Regions from separate parts of the Homo sapiens genome. Here all the other regions are reported to be linked to region 1. The links are microRNA targets in miRTarBase. Many come from high-throughput screens and were not tested one by one. Region 1 holds a microRNA gene; each other region holds the end of a gene's coding sequence.

Region 1 (5,074 bases):
GTATTACCTTGAGAAGTAGGACCAAATGGTTCTATCCGTCTTATGGACAGGTACTTTGGAGAAAAAAAGAAATGACTGCCCTAATAATGCCTAAAAAATAGCCTGGGGAGCTGACATTGTTTAAGAAACATGGTTATTTTACCACTGTAAAACCACAGGCTTGTTTTTAGATTTTAGCAAAAAGTATCAGGGATATGGGGGGGAAAAGTATCTTGTAAGTTGAGGAAGTTAGCGAACGGGTAGGTAGATTACAGGCAATAGGGAAGAATGTGTGTACAGACGGAAAGCCATTTCCCCCAGGGCTTTAGCAATTAATTTATTTCAGCTCTATGACAACTCTAATTTTAGTTTTGGAGGGTATTATTTCCATTCTGGCTGTTTTGAGAGAACTTCCATTCTACTGACAATTCTTGATCTGTTGACCATCAGAAGTCATAGACTTGAAACAGAACGGTTTATAATTCCTGTTTGGCACTCCTTGTCAATGTGGATAAACTGACTTGTGCCTTTGAAGTCCTGGGCATGGGAGGGTTGGGTGTACCAACCAGTGCTCTTTTTCCAAAGACAAAATCAATTCTCACACGCTGGGTATGAGTTATGCCTTATCTGGGGGTGGGGGAGCATCTTAGGAAATTAAATGGAAACTTAAAGAGTCTGCTAAGAAAAGCAGAAATGTAATCTACCGCCTTGACCTCTCAAGAGATTAGATATTCAGGGTCATGACAAAGCTGCTTATGTTGGAATACACAGTGCAGCTATCTTACTTTCACAGACTGTTTACCCTGAGCAGTTTCTCAGCCCAAATCCAGAAAGGAGTACTAAATGGGGCTTCATTTAGGCAGGAGGGCTGAAAATCAGGAGTAGCTCTCTGCTTGAGGACATGTGATAAGTTACTACACACACACACTCTTTAAAACATGAGATATAGCACATATATATTTTTTGAACATTTTACTGGTTGGGGGTAGTGGGTAGATGGTAGAGCTTTTGGAGTAAATAAGAAAGAAGTTATTTTTTTCCTGGGAAGCCTTGATAAAAGTCAACGAAAGAGTGTCCAGCATTTAAGTCATGTCCCTTTTATTTATATAAAGTCCTCTTCAGCAGGTATTGGGAAGACCACAAGGGTAGGGGCTAAGGGGTTAAAGTCGGGGAGCAGAGGCAGAAGATTATATGTTGAAATAATGTATTTTTTTTCCTTAAGATTAGAATGATGAACAAATATGGTGAGTGCTATGGCAGACAGAGGTTTGATTATAGTCTCGGTCAGCTTTGTGCCTATGTGAAGGGCAATGTAATCATTGCATGGTAACAGCAATCTCCCACCCCATCTTACCAGGTTTTGGTTTGTAGATGAGTGGACAATGTTACCTGACTGCTTACAGTGGGTCTCTGCTTTTCCTACAGGATGAGGGAGTGGTGGGTCCAGGTGGGGCTGCTGGCCGTGCCCCTGCTTGCTGCGTACCTGCACATCCCACCCCCTCAGCTCTCCCCTGCCCTTCACTCATGGAAGTCTTCAGGCAAGTTTTTCACTTACAAGGGACTGCGTATCTTCTACCAAGGTAAGAAGTGGACTATTGGAAGTCCTGCGTGTATCGGTCACATAAGTCCCAGCTGAGGTATTTATTTTGTGGCTATTGGTCTCTTGTTGCTCCTTAATGATGGAGGAGAGTATCTCTCTCTCTTTCTGTGTAGTGTGCTTGCAGAGAAGCGCAGAAAACTGCTGGGAGAATGGGGGTAGGGACTGAGATTCCAACCTGCAGACCTTACCTTTTAGTATAAGTTTTCTTTGTAGCTTGATATGTATTCCAATATTAGTTTTTTTTTTTTTTTGAGCAACCTGTCAGGTAATATATAAAATATTAATAGATATAACCACCATTGGTTCTCTCTCCTTACCATCCCTGATTTCATTTTTTCTGTAGATTATTTGTAGTGTAACTGTGATTTAAGTCTTGATACCATTATATAAATTAATTTGCTAGTGATGATGATTATTATGACCACTACTTATCAAGTAATTACCATATGCCAGGCACTGAGTTATGTTTTCAGCCTTCATTGTTTAATCTTTACAACAGCATTTGGAGATAGGTGCCATTAACCTCATTTTATAGGTGAAGAAACTGAGAAACAGATTGGAAATGATTTGTTTTGAGCGGGGGTCAAGAGCAATAACGAAAAATGTTTGTCATAAACCGTTTTTCATTATTGCTCCTGACCTCCTCTCATTTGCTATATTCAATTAAGTAAGTATACAATTTTTATTATGTTGGCTTGGGTTACTTCCAGTTTTACTGTTTTAGAAAACTAATGTTGAAGTAAAAGCTTCATGTCCATACAGTTTATTTTTTCCTTACATTTTCAAACTATACTACTTGTATAAATGGAATGATTTTATTTGCACAGATTCTCAAGAACAAAACTCTTAGGCTAAAGTATATACAATTTTTAACTGCTTCTAAATTATTTTTGAAAACCTTATTACCAAATTTTCATGTCACTGGCAGTATATGAATATACCTGTTCTAATCCCATACTATTAGCAAGGTTAATATTGTCTAAATGTTTACCTAATTTAGATGATGCTGAATGCTTCCATATTGTCATATGCATTAAAAAAGTTCATGTTTATGTTGATTAAGCCCTTTTTATAGTTGACAGGATTTTGTAATAGTTTTATTATGTTTTTGATGTTAGATTGGGTCTCCTGCTGAATAAAAAGTGCTGAGCAAACAGCATAAGCTAAAGGTGTTCCTTGGGAATAGTTGCTGTATCTTAGAGAATTTCTGTGAGGCCATTCATGATAAAGTACAAAGAATTTGTAGTTTATGTGTTGTGATCATATGCTTTTAACTGAAAATTTACTTTTCACTGAAAAAATTTGCATATTACAGAACAAAAGGAGAAATGGGGAGATGCTGTTTAAAAACACCTAGGTGAAAGTAAACAAGGTGCCTTCAAGTATTTTCACATAGCATGATTTTTACAATGTTTTAATATACAGATTGAAAGGAGAAAAGGCCTGTTCTCACCTAACGCAGTTAAGCTTACATTTTACAAATAATTGTGTCATTTTAATGTCAATTTGGTCACAGTTGCTTGTTCTTTGTATCAGATTACTTAGATTTTAACATCTTCGAGGTTATTTTTATAGGGATTTGGCATAATTGATTGTACTTTCCTTCTTCCTAGACTCTGTGGGTGTGGTTGGAAGTCCAGAGATAGTTGTGCTTTTACACGGTTTTCCAACATCCAGCTACGACTGGTACAAGGTAATGAAGTCAGACTTCTACGTCCTACTATGTCTTAAAAAATCTCGGCCGGGCGCGGGGGCTCAAATCCTAGCACTTTGGGAGGCTGAGGTGGGAGGATGACCTGAGGTCAGGAGTTTGAGACCAGCCAGGCCAACATGGCAAAACCCCATCTCTACTAAAAGTATAAAAATTGGCCAGGCATGGTGGCACAAGCCTGTAATCCCAGCTACTTGGGAGGCTGAGGCAGGAGAATCGCTTGAACCCGGGAGGCAGAGGTTGCAGTGAGCTGAGATTGCACCACTGCACTTCAGCCTAGGTGACAGAGCGAGAGTCTGTCTCAAAAAAAAATTTTTTTTTAATAAAAATTTAAAAAACCTCAAGGATTTTGTTGTCAGCACCAGAAGGCTCTTGCACATTTGAATTGCTTTTAAAAAAACATTAAATGTTGAACTGTTCCTTATTTACTGAAGGGAATAAACAACTCCTTGGCACTCTGGAAGGGATCACTGCCAAGTTACCCTCCCTCAACAGGGATTAATTACCAGGAATAAAGCATTTTCCAAGAGGATCATCTGTGGGACCTGTGGTAGTTTCATGGCGTTTTCTCTTTATGGAAGTCTGTTAAGCCAAGATAGGGCTGAAGCTCCTGTGCAACTGTAGGTCTGGTGAAAGGGAGGGGCAGGAGCAGAAAGCCCAAATCATCGTTTCTTTCTTGTAGATTTGGGAAGGTCTGACCTTGAGGTTTCATCGGGTGATTGCCCTTGATTTCTTAGGCTTTGGCTTCAGTGACAAACCGGTAAGCAGCACCTATGTGGGGCTGGTGATGGGGTGTGGGGGCAGACGCAGACTATGAGGGTCAGGCTGGCAGAGAGAGCTGTCCTCATGACTTCATCCTGTGTATGTGGGCTTTCCTTTCCTCAGAGACCACATCACTATTCCATATTTGAGCAGGCCAGCATCGTGGAAGCGCTTTTGCGGCATCTGGGGCTCCAGAACCGCAGGATCAACCTTCTTTCTCATGACTATGGAGATATTGTTGCTCAGGAGCTTCTCTACAGGTCAGTGGAGCTTCAGACTTCAGCTTATGATGCTAGGAAAGTACATTGTTTCTGGACTGTTTGTATCCTTTTTCTCTCGTTTTCAGCGGTGCACTGGTTTAAGTTTGCTCAGCTACATGTGTGTTTCCTCGTCTCCCTTCTAGGTACAAGCAGAATCGATCTGGTCGGCTTACCATAAAGAGTCTCTGTCTGTCAAATGGAGGTAATTGCCTTGGCGGTAGGTAGAAAGTGGGTGTAATCTAGAAGGGCCATCTTTAGATACAGCGGCACCTAAATGGTAATCTGATAATATTTCAAGTAGACATAATTAAACTATGGGATCTCTACCTCTTCTGTGCCATCAACTCCTTTGGTGGTCTGACAAGATTTATGGACCCTTTCTCAGAATGTTTTAAAATAAAGAAACAAACAGCATTACAAAGGATAGTGACTTTACTTACATAGTCAATAAAAAGCTGCATTATAGTCACATGTGCTTTTTCAATGCATTAGATAGCAAGTTCTAGTGGAGGACCTAGTAACAGCTATATCAGAAGGAGTGAGGAGTGTAAAGACTGTTTGCCATATCTGAAACAACTGCAATAGGTTATGAGAGTGTAGGATTGAAGATACAGAAAAAAGCCACAAGTGTTTCTAATACTACTATGATGTTAGTGTAGAAAATCCTTACTTAATGTCATCAATGGGTTCTTGGAAACTGTGACTTTAAATGAAACGTTATAATGGAACCAATTTTTTTTCTCATCAATGTTTTAAAGAAAG
Region 2 (5,066 bases), not on the chromosome of region 1:
CATTGGAAGCAGCTGGTGATAAACCTAAGGCATATGCCTAACATACAATATCAGCAGGTCAGAAAGGGAAACAAACTTAGGCTGTGGCAACTTTTACTACCAGCGTGAACAACCAGCATTTTTATTGCATTTGAGAATGCTTATAATGTCAGTAATTAGTACTGACTACACAACATTTTTTTTATTGTCTGTATCCGCAGACATGGAATGATGGAATTACAGTTGATGTCAAGGAATGAGTTTCTTTTATGCCTTATCAAAACAAAACAAAACAAAACAAAAAAATTCTTGTTACTGGCAGCACATATACATGAAGCACCATGCTCACAGTCCGGACTGTATCATCTTCATCAAGGCTTATGGGTAGCAGAGATTGCGTGAGCTACACTGGGCCCAAGAAATGCCTTCAGCATTGTAAATCTGATTTTCAGGATAAAGAAGCAAAACTGACTTTGAAGACATCCAGAATTTCAGGAGGCTATGTCATTAACCAAAAGGTACCAAAAAGATTCAAAATCTGAATAAGCACACTCTTCTTTGTGCCTTTGGAAACGGAGTTCAGCTGGAATATGGAAAAGAGAGGAAATATTTTTTAACTCTATTTTTTTTCATGAGGAAAAAAAAGCTAGTGATTTACAGCCTATCTTGGGTTAAGAATCCAAGGTTTTCTTTACTAGGTCTGACTGGATGCTGGGGATGGTGTTAGAGCTGTCCAAAGGTGGCAGGACTGGTGGTAACTCTTCACGTATGTACATAAGCCTTGATATTCCATTTTGTGGCTGGTCCAAGGGGCAGCCTAACTCATCTTACAAGACGGACTCTAGGGACAGGTAGGTTGGATCCTCATTCCTGACAGTGCATTTGTCTGACACACGGGACTACCTCCCTAATGTATGCTTTTCTTTGAGAAAAAAAAAGTAACAGATTTTCTTTACATCTTGGCACCTTGTAAAGTTTTTTTTTTTTTATACAAAAGTTCAATAGTTTTGACACTCCCCATTGTTAATCACTACTTCACTGATAAACTTGGAAAAGTGTGACCCTGGAATTTCATCATGCAAAATATTTACTGCAGCAGGAGAAAACATTTTTTAAACAACATTTTTTTTTCTTTTCAAATGTATGAACTTGTTTAAGATAGCCAGGAAGGCAGTGGTAGGATAAACACAAGGGATAGGAATGTATCAAAAAACAGATTAACACACACGCACGCGCGCACACACACACACACACACACACAAAACCTGTACAAAATGCTCCAATCAATGAGAACAGAAAAAAGAAATCTTCAACTATGTTACAGTTTAAAAGCAGAAAAAAAAAGTTAGGGAGTTTCTCCCTCCCACATGTCAGGAAATGTCATCCAATATTCTTAAAGCAAGGATAACTAAATAAAATACATGTGCAGCATATTCTGCAATTCCGTTACATACAGTAGTTTTTTTTCCAAAGCTATTTTTTTTTAGTATCGTTAATATAAAGCAGTTGCACAAAAAGCAAAGGTGTTTTGACAAACAGGTGTATGCATTTATTCCTTTTTAGGAACAATATCTAAAAAAAGAACCGCCCTCTGCCCTCCCCCAAAAAAGACAAAGATTCACACAGACACATCGGGATATATGTACAACGTAATAAACCCCATCCTAAAGAAGCAACTGGGATAACCCCCAGGGGATACAGAATCAGAATTGTAAAAATCATAGTGAAGTTTGCTTGCTGTAAAGCCTGAGAATTTTTTTTTCAGTTGGTTCTTCTGCAAGGCTGTGATACCTGCAAAGATATGTAAAATCTAATTTTTCTTTTTTTTTTTTTTTTGCTACAGTCTTTAGACTAAGCATGCAAGACATACGACTAAGTGCAACTGAGTGAAATGTTTTTTTTTTAAATTTTAATCATTCCCTAAAGGTTTGAACTGAGGTATGCGTACTAACAGTTTCTCATGCTGTTATCTTTACTCATGTCTAGCTACACATGCTGAGAATGAACTAATCTACCAGATTTTTATCCTCTTTTGAATACCAAACTAACCAGCAACCACTCAGTTTAGAAGCACAGGGCCCCCTTCCCATGACCCTGTCTGGCTACTGCCTGCACATCATGAAGCTGCCTGGAAAAGTTTTTTTTTTTTTTTTTTTTTTTTTTTTTTTTTTTTTTTTTAAAGTCTTGCGTGACCACAGACTGCCCTTTATACAGAAAGCAGAGTGAAGCTTCAAAAGTAACTGCCAGAGAAGTTTTTGTACCAAGCTTATGAGTGGATGGGAGTGTTACTTTTCTTTAAATGAAAAATGCTGACCAAAGCCTAATCGGAAAAAAAGGAAAAATTAAAAATAAAAACAAACTGAAGGATATATGCCAAGATAAACCAAAATTAATACAGTGATCACAGCACAGTTCTTAAACAAAAGTGGCATACAATCTAAAAATATCTCTTTTTCTAGAAATACTATTATGTAATCTAGTTCAATTATGGAAGCTTTTCTGTCCTGACTCTAAACTGTCTCCTTTATTGGATACTCTAATTGCAGTGGCATACATTCATTTTTTTTTTGAGATGGGACTCCCTTCCTTCTGTAGCTCCTTTAATATTGTGTCCTATTTTTATCTGCAGTAGCCCCATAAAATCTCTTTAAGAGAATGAGTTTTGGTCTCTGTAGAGGTACACAAAAAGAAAAAGGAAAAATAACTACTAGAAAAAAGTAACAACTTTGGTTCCATTATCTACTTGGTCTTCTAAATTTACGATGAAGGAGCAGTTCTCTTTCTCAGGTTGCAATAGCCTATCGCTTGTCATTTGCCTCTAAATTCTTTTGCCTCCTTTGATCAACAATAAGAGGATATTTGGCTTCATCAGATAAAGCATAAAACAGAGAACATAATTTACCTTTGTGTAATATCTTTGGTAATTTTAGAAAAAAGGTACAAAGAAAGAATATAAATTAAGCTTCGAAAGGCTCTCGAACTAAAAAAAACTACAGTCCTATATAAATAAATGACAGGAAAGTGGGTGCAGAGCTGAAGTGTGGAGGGGTTCTAAGGACTGAGGTTGTACTGACCTGTAACCATCACATTTCTGCATACCATGTTTGGGACCCCCCCAAAGCCCAGGGCCTACATGATATCTTCTATGAGTTTTTGTGATACTGGGTTGGTGATATAATATTGCATAACAAACTGCAGTACCAAATTTGCATATTTGAAATTAACACTTTAGCATTTGCTGAACTCAGCCCTCGTTAACTCCCTTAACAAGTTCAATCTGAAATCGAATTTGCATTCAAACAGTTTAATGCCACCAAGTAGGTCTGAACTAATGTATAAACTCAGCGCCGCCGCCGCCACCCCTACTTTCAGGGCAGCTGCTCGGGGAAGCCGGTTTTTTTTTTTGGCCATTTTGCAAACAAAACCAACCCACACCCGTTATCGCAGAGCACCCAAGGCCCATGGCAACTTGGTTCCACAAGGGAGAGCCTTCCAAGGCCATATTGTCAGTCTAATTAATATGAGCTTTTTTTTTTTTTTCAGTGCTGCCTATGTTTCCTTGTGCTGGTAGAATGTGGTGGCATTTATTAATGGTTGCTGCAAAAAAAAAAAAAGAAAAGAAAAGAAAAAAAGAAAATCCGAAACACCCCTCCCCCGAACCACCCCCAATACTGCTGCGTGGAATGAATCGGCATTGTTCCTAGAGTTTGTCTCTCTTTTTTTTTTCTGTCATTCATTCTCTTTCTGGCAGGACGTCACGTCTGTGTGAGAGGGCCTTCATGTGTAGAGTGCAGCATTTGGGACCTTTTTGAAAAAGACCAAAACGGAATGTTTTCTGACTTTAGAGAAACGTGGTGATGTCTGAAGGAAGATGGAATGAGTGACAGAAAGCTACAAACGAGAAATGACATTCAGCTTTGTATAATAAAAACACCTATTAACATTCATCACAAGGTACAGAAAACTTTAAGCCTCCAAGAGGCCATCGGCCCAAATGGAGGCCTGAGGTCAGAACTTAAAATGGTATAGTAGAAGGAAAAAAAAAAAAAAAAAAAGCAATACATTAAAAAGTTTGGGATAATTATTTTTTAACCCCTCCCCCCAATACACACACAAAGGCCTTCCCCATCCCAACTGGAAGCAAAAAAAAAAAAAAAAAAAAAAAAAAAAAAGGAGTAAAGGCAGTGATAATCAACATGCAGTACTGTGCAAATAGGTCGTCCATTGGAATCCTTAAATTCTGGGCAAAGGCTTGGTCTGCAGCTTAGGTGCACAAGCTCTGTCGGGCGTCCTCAGTGTCCAACGTTGGCAGGACTGCAGTTCAAAGTCTGCTGCTAAAAGTGAATCAGTTTAGCAAATTTACAACACTGATGTTGACGGTTAAGAGAGGAAAATCCCAAGTACCAAACAAGTCCATCCAATGCACAGAGTACAAATTCCTTTTTTCAACAAAAAGTAGAAAAATCAAAAATACTCCCAAATGGGGTTCTTGATGGCACTAAGAGTTAACACATTTCAGAGTTGTCAAAACGTAGTGAAAATCCTCCAGACTGTACAACAAATGGAGAACAATTTCACTGCTAACTTTTGACGTGTTTTTTTTTTTTTCCTTTTTCCAATCTTCATTCTCGGGGTTGGCCCGCCCCGATAGTCACTCCATGTCCTCGTTTACTGGTTCATCTTCGTAATCTCTGTCATGGTCAAAATCTGGACTGTGGTTGGCTGTTGTCACTAAGGACAGGGGCCCTTCAGCTTCCTCTGGATCGAGGGGCTCTTCTTTGACGTGTACAGGATGCCTGGAAAAAATATGCAGAGGTTCAGTGAGGGTACTTCCCAGCCCATTGCAGCTCAGGTGCACTGAAAAGTTTGGGGCAACAGAAAAGCCGCACTCTAGAACTAGAACTCTGTCCAGTATTGTTACCATTAGCCACACGTGGCTCTTTAAATTGAAATGAACGAAATCTTACTACATTTAATATTCAGTTTCTGAGTTGTGCTAGCCACATTTATGTTCAAAGGCCCCATGTGACTAGCGGTTAATTCTGGCCAGCACAGAGACAGACGGAACATTTGCATCACTGCGTAAA
Region 3 (5,066 bases), not on the chromosome of region 1:
TGGCAAAGCCTCAGCCCCAAAGTCCCCCTCCTCCTAGCCTCCTGTCTGAGCTCCCCCAGCCTAGGGACCGCGGGGAGGCTGGGCCGGGGTCTGGGACGTGCAGTGGTGCAGGGGTGGGGGCAGCAGGAAACGCGTTGGCGTGAAAGGACGGGTGCACGTGAGCGTGCCCGTGCCGGGGGTCCACGTGCGGCGCCCCGGGGCTCGCCCCCTCTTCCGTCCAGGCCCCGCCGCAGCCGTCAGACCCTCGGCTGCGCCTCCCGCCCCCAACTTTGCAGACGCGCGGGGAGAGAGGCGGGGCTGCAGCGCCTCCGCGCTTGCGCCTGCGCACTCGGCGCTGCCGGGCTGAAGTCCCGCCTTCTGGAGGCTTCGTCGCGCTGCTACTGGGGCACGCCGATGAGCGAGCGGTGCGATCACCAATGAGGCTTCCCCGCTGGTGGGCGGGGCCTGGGCCGCGCGACGCGCGGACGGGGGCGGGCAGGGCGCCCTACCCGGGGTGACGTCAGGCTCCTTTCGCGGCGCGTTGCCCTGGAAACCGCGTTTCCATCCCGGCGGGTTTCCGGGGGCCGCCCCCTCCCATTCAGCTTTTTCCTCAATGGTTGGGGGAAGGGAGCGATCCAGGGCCGACCCCGCCCCGCGAGATCCCAGCGGTCCCTGCCCTCTTTGTGCCTCAGTTTACCTCTCCGTGCTTCCCTACGCACACTTGGCCTCCGCCTGCCGCCCCTCCGCCCGCTGCACCCCTGGTTGGGCTGACCCTACCAGGCCAGGGCTCTGAGCCTGGAGCTCCATACCCCACCCCACGCCCCCAGGGCACAGCCTTGACCCCTGGGATCCCCAGTCTGGGGTGGGGGTCGGCATCCCGAGGGGCGGGTCCTGGAGTGCAGGGGACGCGCCCCCCACCCTGCAGGCTACAGACACAGCCCCTGTGATTCAGCAGGTGCTTCAGACAACATCCTCCTTCCTCCTTCCCACCCCGCCCAGCGAGGGGGCGGTGGCGCCCTGGGGCCCTCGCCTTGACCCCAGGCCTGGCGTCGGTGACCCGCACCCCCACCCTGAGCCCCGAGGGGACATCCGCACCAGGGACGGGGCGGGGGGTGGGTGCCGCCTGACTGGGCATCCGCCTTCCTGCCGTGGGCGTGCGATGATTTGGGGTTGACTGGGCGTTGGGAGGGGCAGAGGGGTCTCAGGAAGGTGCTCCCAGGCCACTCTCTGAACCTGTGCCCCTTCCCCTGGGGGCTCCCGGTACTGGGGCCCCTAGAGATGGGATAAGGGGTGGAGGTCACATCATTGAACAAACACCCCAAATCCTCTGGGCCAAGTGATGTTCCTCTTTGGGCCTCTGTTCTCCCATCTATAAAATGGGAGCCCAATTACTTCTCATAGGCAACTCTTGTTACCTGAGGAAATACAGGTTACAAAATTTAAAAAAAGACATGAAATAGTGTTATTGCCTCATCTCTGCCCAGCCCGGACATGGGTGGAGGTGGGACCCCAGAGAGGACTCAGTCCTGGTGAGGCTCACGGGGAGCTCCAGGCTAGGGACAGAGAGAGGGAAGGGTGGGGTCTGCGGGACGGGGTGGACAGGGGTGGAAGGCGCAGGCTGGGGAAGTTCCCAGACAGCAAGGGACAGCCGGACCAGGGGTGTTCCTAGACAGGGGGCAAAGGCCGGGAGGTTTGGAGCTGAAGGCCAGGTCTGGGAAGGGCTGGAATGTCAGGAGGTGTGGCCAGAGAGGCCCCCCAGGGCTGGGTCAAGCCAGGCCTGTATCACCTGCCAGCCCAAGGTACCCTGCGGAGTCCTAGGTCCTCCCAGTCGGCCTGGTGATCTCCCTGCAGCAAGCCACACAGATGTGAGACTCCAGGAAGGGGAGCAGGTGGGTGTGGCAGAGTGGGAGTCCCCGACTCCTGTGGCTGGGGAGAGCTGGTGGTCGCGTCTCCCCCATACTGGCAGGTCCTGAGGGGGCCAGGGTCCTGCCCAGGCCACGAAGCAGGCAGGCAGGCCCTCGCCCCACACCCTAAGGGACTTCCGGCCTTGGGTACCAGGAAGTGGCTGGGCTCCTCCCTCCCACCCTGGCTGCTTCCTGCCCACCCGGCAGCCGGGGAAGGAGCGTGGGAAATTCTCAGGGCCCTGACCCCTGCCCCACCCCCTCTTCGGGGCCTTGGGACCCAGGTCAGTCCCTCTGACTCCCTGAGCTGACATCCCACCCCAGGAACCCTCCCAACCAAGGCCAGATCCCCCCACTAGGCGAGCAGGCGGGAGTCAATGTGTGTTTCATTTTCTGTTTATTACTTGAAATCACGGTGCTCGTGTAGGTTTTTTTTTTTTTTTCAATTTTATGTTTTCATACATGAAACTCACGCCAGGTGCCGGGACCCCCACAGCCCGACCCCCCGAGGGCGGGTAATGCTTTCTTGGGCAGCCCTTACCGGGCAGAGGGTGGCGAGCCGGTTCCTGCCTGGAGGTTCCACCCTCAACCAGTGGAGGCACAGACGTTATTTAAAAATCGTTAAAAAACAAAACAGAACACACATTTAAATAGGTATCCAAGACAGTTCTTCAAAAAACAAACCCGCCCCTTTTACTCCTTTTTTTTCTATTTTTTTTTCTTTTTTTTTTGGAAAAATGAAAACAAAACAAAACCCAAAATCCTTGAGCTCTACCCTCTGGGACCCCTCCCTGCCCACCCTCCCACAAAAAAATTTACAGCGCTACAGTTATAACACGTGATGTTCACATCTGAAACCATTAACTTTCAACACATAAAGGGGGGGAGTTGAGGACCTGGGGTTCACCTACGAGAACAACGGTGGGGGACAGGCAGAGCCAGGACAAGACCGACAGGTGGGGTGAGGAAGGGTCCAGACATCTCCATTATCATTAAAAAATAAAAAGTGAGTGGGGAAAAAAATCCAAAAACTACCCCATTGAAATGGCCCCAGTAGGGGATTTGTCCCTCCCCTCTGGAGACAGACACCCCTAGGGCAGGGGCACTGAGAGGCAGGGGGTCCAAATTAGACCAGCAGCGGACCCCGCCACGGGGGTTAATGCTACACGGAGTTGTCGCCCCCTGCCCAGGGGATTCACAGCTCAGCACCCCCTCCCATCCTCGCTGCAGGAGGGGCCCCCAGACAGTCCCAAATCCACATCCCTCAGGTTGGGCCGGGAAGGAGGGCTCGGAGGGGGGAACTCCCCAGCACCCAGCCATTCTCTCCCCTTTTTCAAGAGTTCCCCAACCACTATTGGCTCAGTCAGAAAATTAATAGTCTATAAATACCCCAAACTCAGGCAGGAGGTCAGAAAACACGGGAGTGGGGGCGGAGGAAACAGCACAGTCCGCCGGCTGGGGCGGGGCGGAGGGCAGGCTGGGGGGGTAGTTCCCCTCTCCCTTCCCGACAGGAAAGGGTGCCATGCCCCTGCACCCAAACCCCATGGGGACCTCAGCCCCAGCCTCTGCTAAAACAGCTTTGCTCTCCTTGTTAAAGAAATGAAGGAAAATGCAAAAAAAAGATCAAGAAAAGAGGATAGGAGTGGAAGAGAAACAGTCCCCTCGTTGGCTTCTGTGACCTGTTGGCTTGCTGTAGCCCAGTGGGCGCTGCTGGCCTGGGGTGGAGACCCCGAAGTCTGCACTGGGGGGTGGGGTGGGTTCTGCGCACTGCGGCCCCTCCCCTCATCTGTAAAGTGCATAATGACATATCGACATTTTTGACTTAAAACCTGAATAGGGTCGGGGGGGAAAGGAGGCGGCGGAAGGGATGGGGCGCGTTTCTCCGTCTCCTTCACTCTCCGCCATCCAGAGAGACTGCTACATATTGGAGCTGGGGAAGGTTGGCAGGGAGGACCGACCTGGCGCAGAGGTGAAAGGAGACAGACGGAGGAGGAGGAGGAGGAGGAAGAGGAGGGCAGGAGTGAAGGGTGAAGGAGGTAGGAAGCAAAGCCCATGAAGAGTCCAGGAAACCACGGTCAGAACTTTTTAAAAAAAGAAAAAAATAATAAAAAAGAAGAAAAGAAAAAAAGACTTCTGGCTGGGGGAGTGGCCGCCTGCCCTCCAGGGCTGGGCCACGTTCTCTCCGGGGCTCTCGGAGTCCCCGCCGCCCTGGGCTGGGGTGCGAGGGGCGAGGGTGGCCGATCCGAAGATCCTAAGCCACCACGAACTCTGACTTGATGTCAGGGTTGACTTCTGGCTTCCACACGGAGTCCTCGAAGTCGAGGCCCAAGCCGGAGGCCTCGCTGGGGCTGCCGCCGCCCCCGCTGCTACTGCTGTCGCTGCGGCCGGCCTTGCGGCTGGGTGACCAGTGGTACGGACCCCGCGCGTCCCGCCGGGCCTTTCTACGGAGCCGTTTCTGCTGCAGAAGCAGCTGCAGCCGTTCCACCTTGCAGCGCGTGGCGCGGTTTTCTGTCTGCCGAAGCCGGTCCCCTGCAAAGGAGGTAGTGGCCTGTGACTCCCAAAGCCTCCACCTGCTGAACACAGAGGACCACCCCAGACCCCAGCAAATGCCCCTGAGGTCAGACACAGTCCTGCCCTCCCTGGAGGGAGGTCAGCAAAGGAAACAGTCAAGGACATCCACCATGCCGGGCACAGTGGTTCACGCCTGTAATCTCAGCACTTTGGGAGGCCGAGGCAGGAGAATCGCTTGAGCTCAGGAGTTCGAGACAGGCCTGGGCAACCTCAGGAGTTCGAGACAGGCCTGAGCCACAGAGCGAGACCCCTCCTCTACAAAAATTACAAAATTAGCTGGGCATGGTGGTGTTTGCCTGGAGTCCCAGCTACGCAGCTGGCTTCTAATTCTCCAGCTCAGCCATGAGCTGGGGAGGTCAGGACTGTCCTGCCTCATTCTTCCTGGAGTCCTACATGGAGGGGGCTTGGCCGCTTCTGTGATCCGAGGGGAGATACTTGGGGGTTGTACCTTGGTTTTTTTTTTTTTTTTTTGAGACGGAGTCTCGCTCTGTCGCCCAGGCTGGAGTGCAGTGGCGCGATCTCGGCTCACTGCAAGCTCCGCCTCTGGGTTCACGCCATTCTCCTGTCTCAGCCTCCCGAGTAGCTGGGACTACAGGCGCCCACCACCACGCCTGG

Evidence for each region. Region 1 holds the annotated microRNA hsa-miR-335-3p (UUUUUCAUUAUUGCUCCUGACC, at 2,199-2,220, shown strand). A microRNA usually pairs through its seed, bases 2 to 8, with sites in the 3' UTR of a target mRNA and lowers its output. Matches are read on the target gene's strand: a 7mer-m8 pairs with bases 2 to 8, a 7mer-A1 pairs with bases 2 to 7 and ends in A, and an 8mer does both.
Region 2: miRTarBase lists FOXP1 as a target of hsa-miR-335-3p. Seed matches in the 3' UTR shown: 7mer-A1 at 4,421-4,427, 7mer-A1 at 3,515-3,521, 7mer-A1 at 1,737-1,743 and 8mer at 605-612.
Region 3: the mRNA of MIDN is a reported target of hsa-miR-335-3p. Seed matches in the 3' UTR shown: 7mer-A1 at 3,210-3,216, 7mer-m8 at 2,334-2,340 and 7mer-A1 at 2,319-2,325.

The regions. Positions count from the first base shown.
Region 1 is chr7:130,493,964-130,499,037 of GRCh38, forward strand. MIR335 (microRNA 335) reads left to right here and starts at 2,148; the gene lies at 2,148-2,241. It overlaps MEST (mesoderm specific transcript), which reads left to right. Exons shown (of 12, transcript NM_002402.4): 2 at 1,405-1,559; 3 at 3,193-3,272; 4 at 3,973-4,050; 5 at 4,176-4,312; 6 at 4,456-4,514.
Region 2 is chr3:70,954,617-70,959,682 of GRCh38, forward strand. FOXP1 (forkhead box P1) reads right to left here. Exons shown (of 21, transcript NM_001349338.3): 21 at 92-4,775. The coding sequence ends at 4,631. Among named protein-coding and RNA genes, the nearest start is that of FOXP1-AS1, 330 kb to the right of the region's middle.
Region 3 is chr19:1,256,338-1,261,403 of GRCh38, reverse strand. It overlaps MIDN (midnolin), which reads right to left. Exons shown (of 9, transcript NM_001388306.1): 9 at 2,261-4,409. The coding sequence ends at 4,132. It also overlaps LOC107985303. Among named protein-coding and RNA genes, the nearest start is that of MIDN, 10 kb to the right of the region's middle. RefSeq lists enhancers at 1-33, 1,684-1,843, 2,264-2,413 and silencers at 74-313, 324-1,243.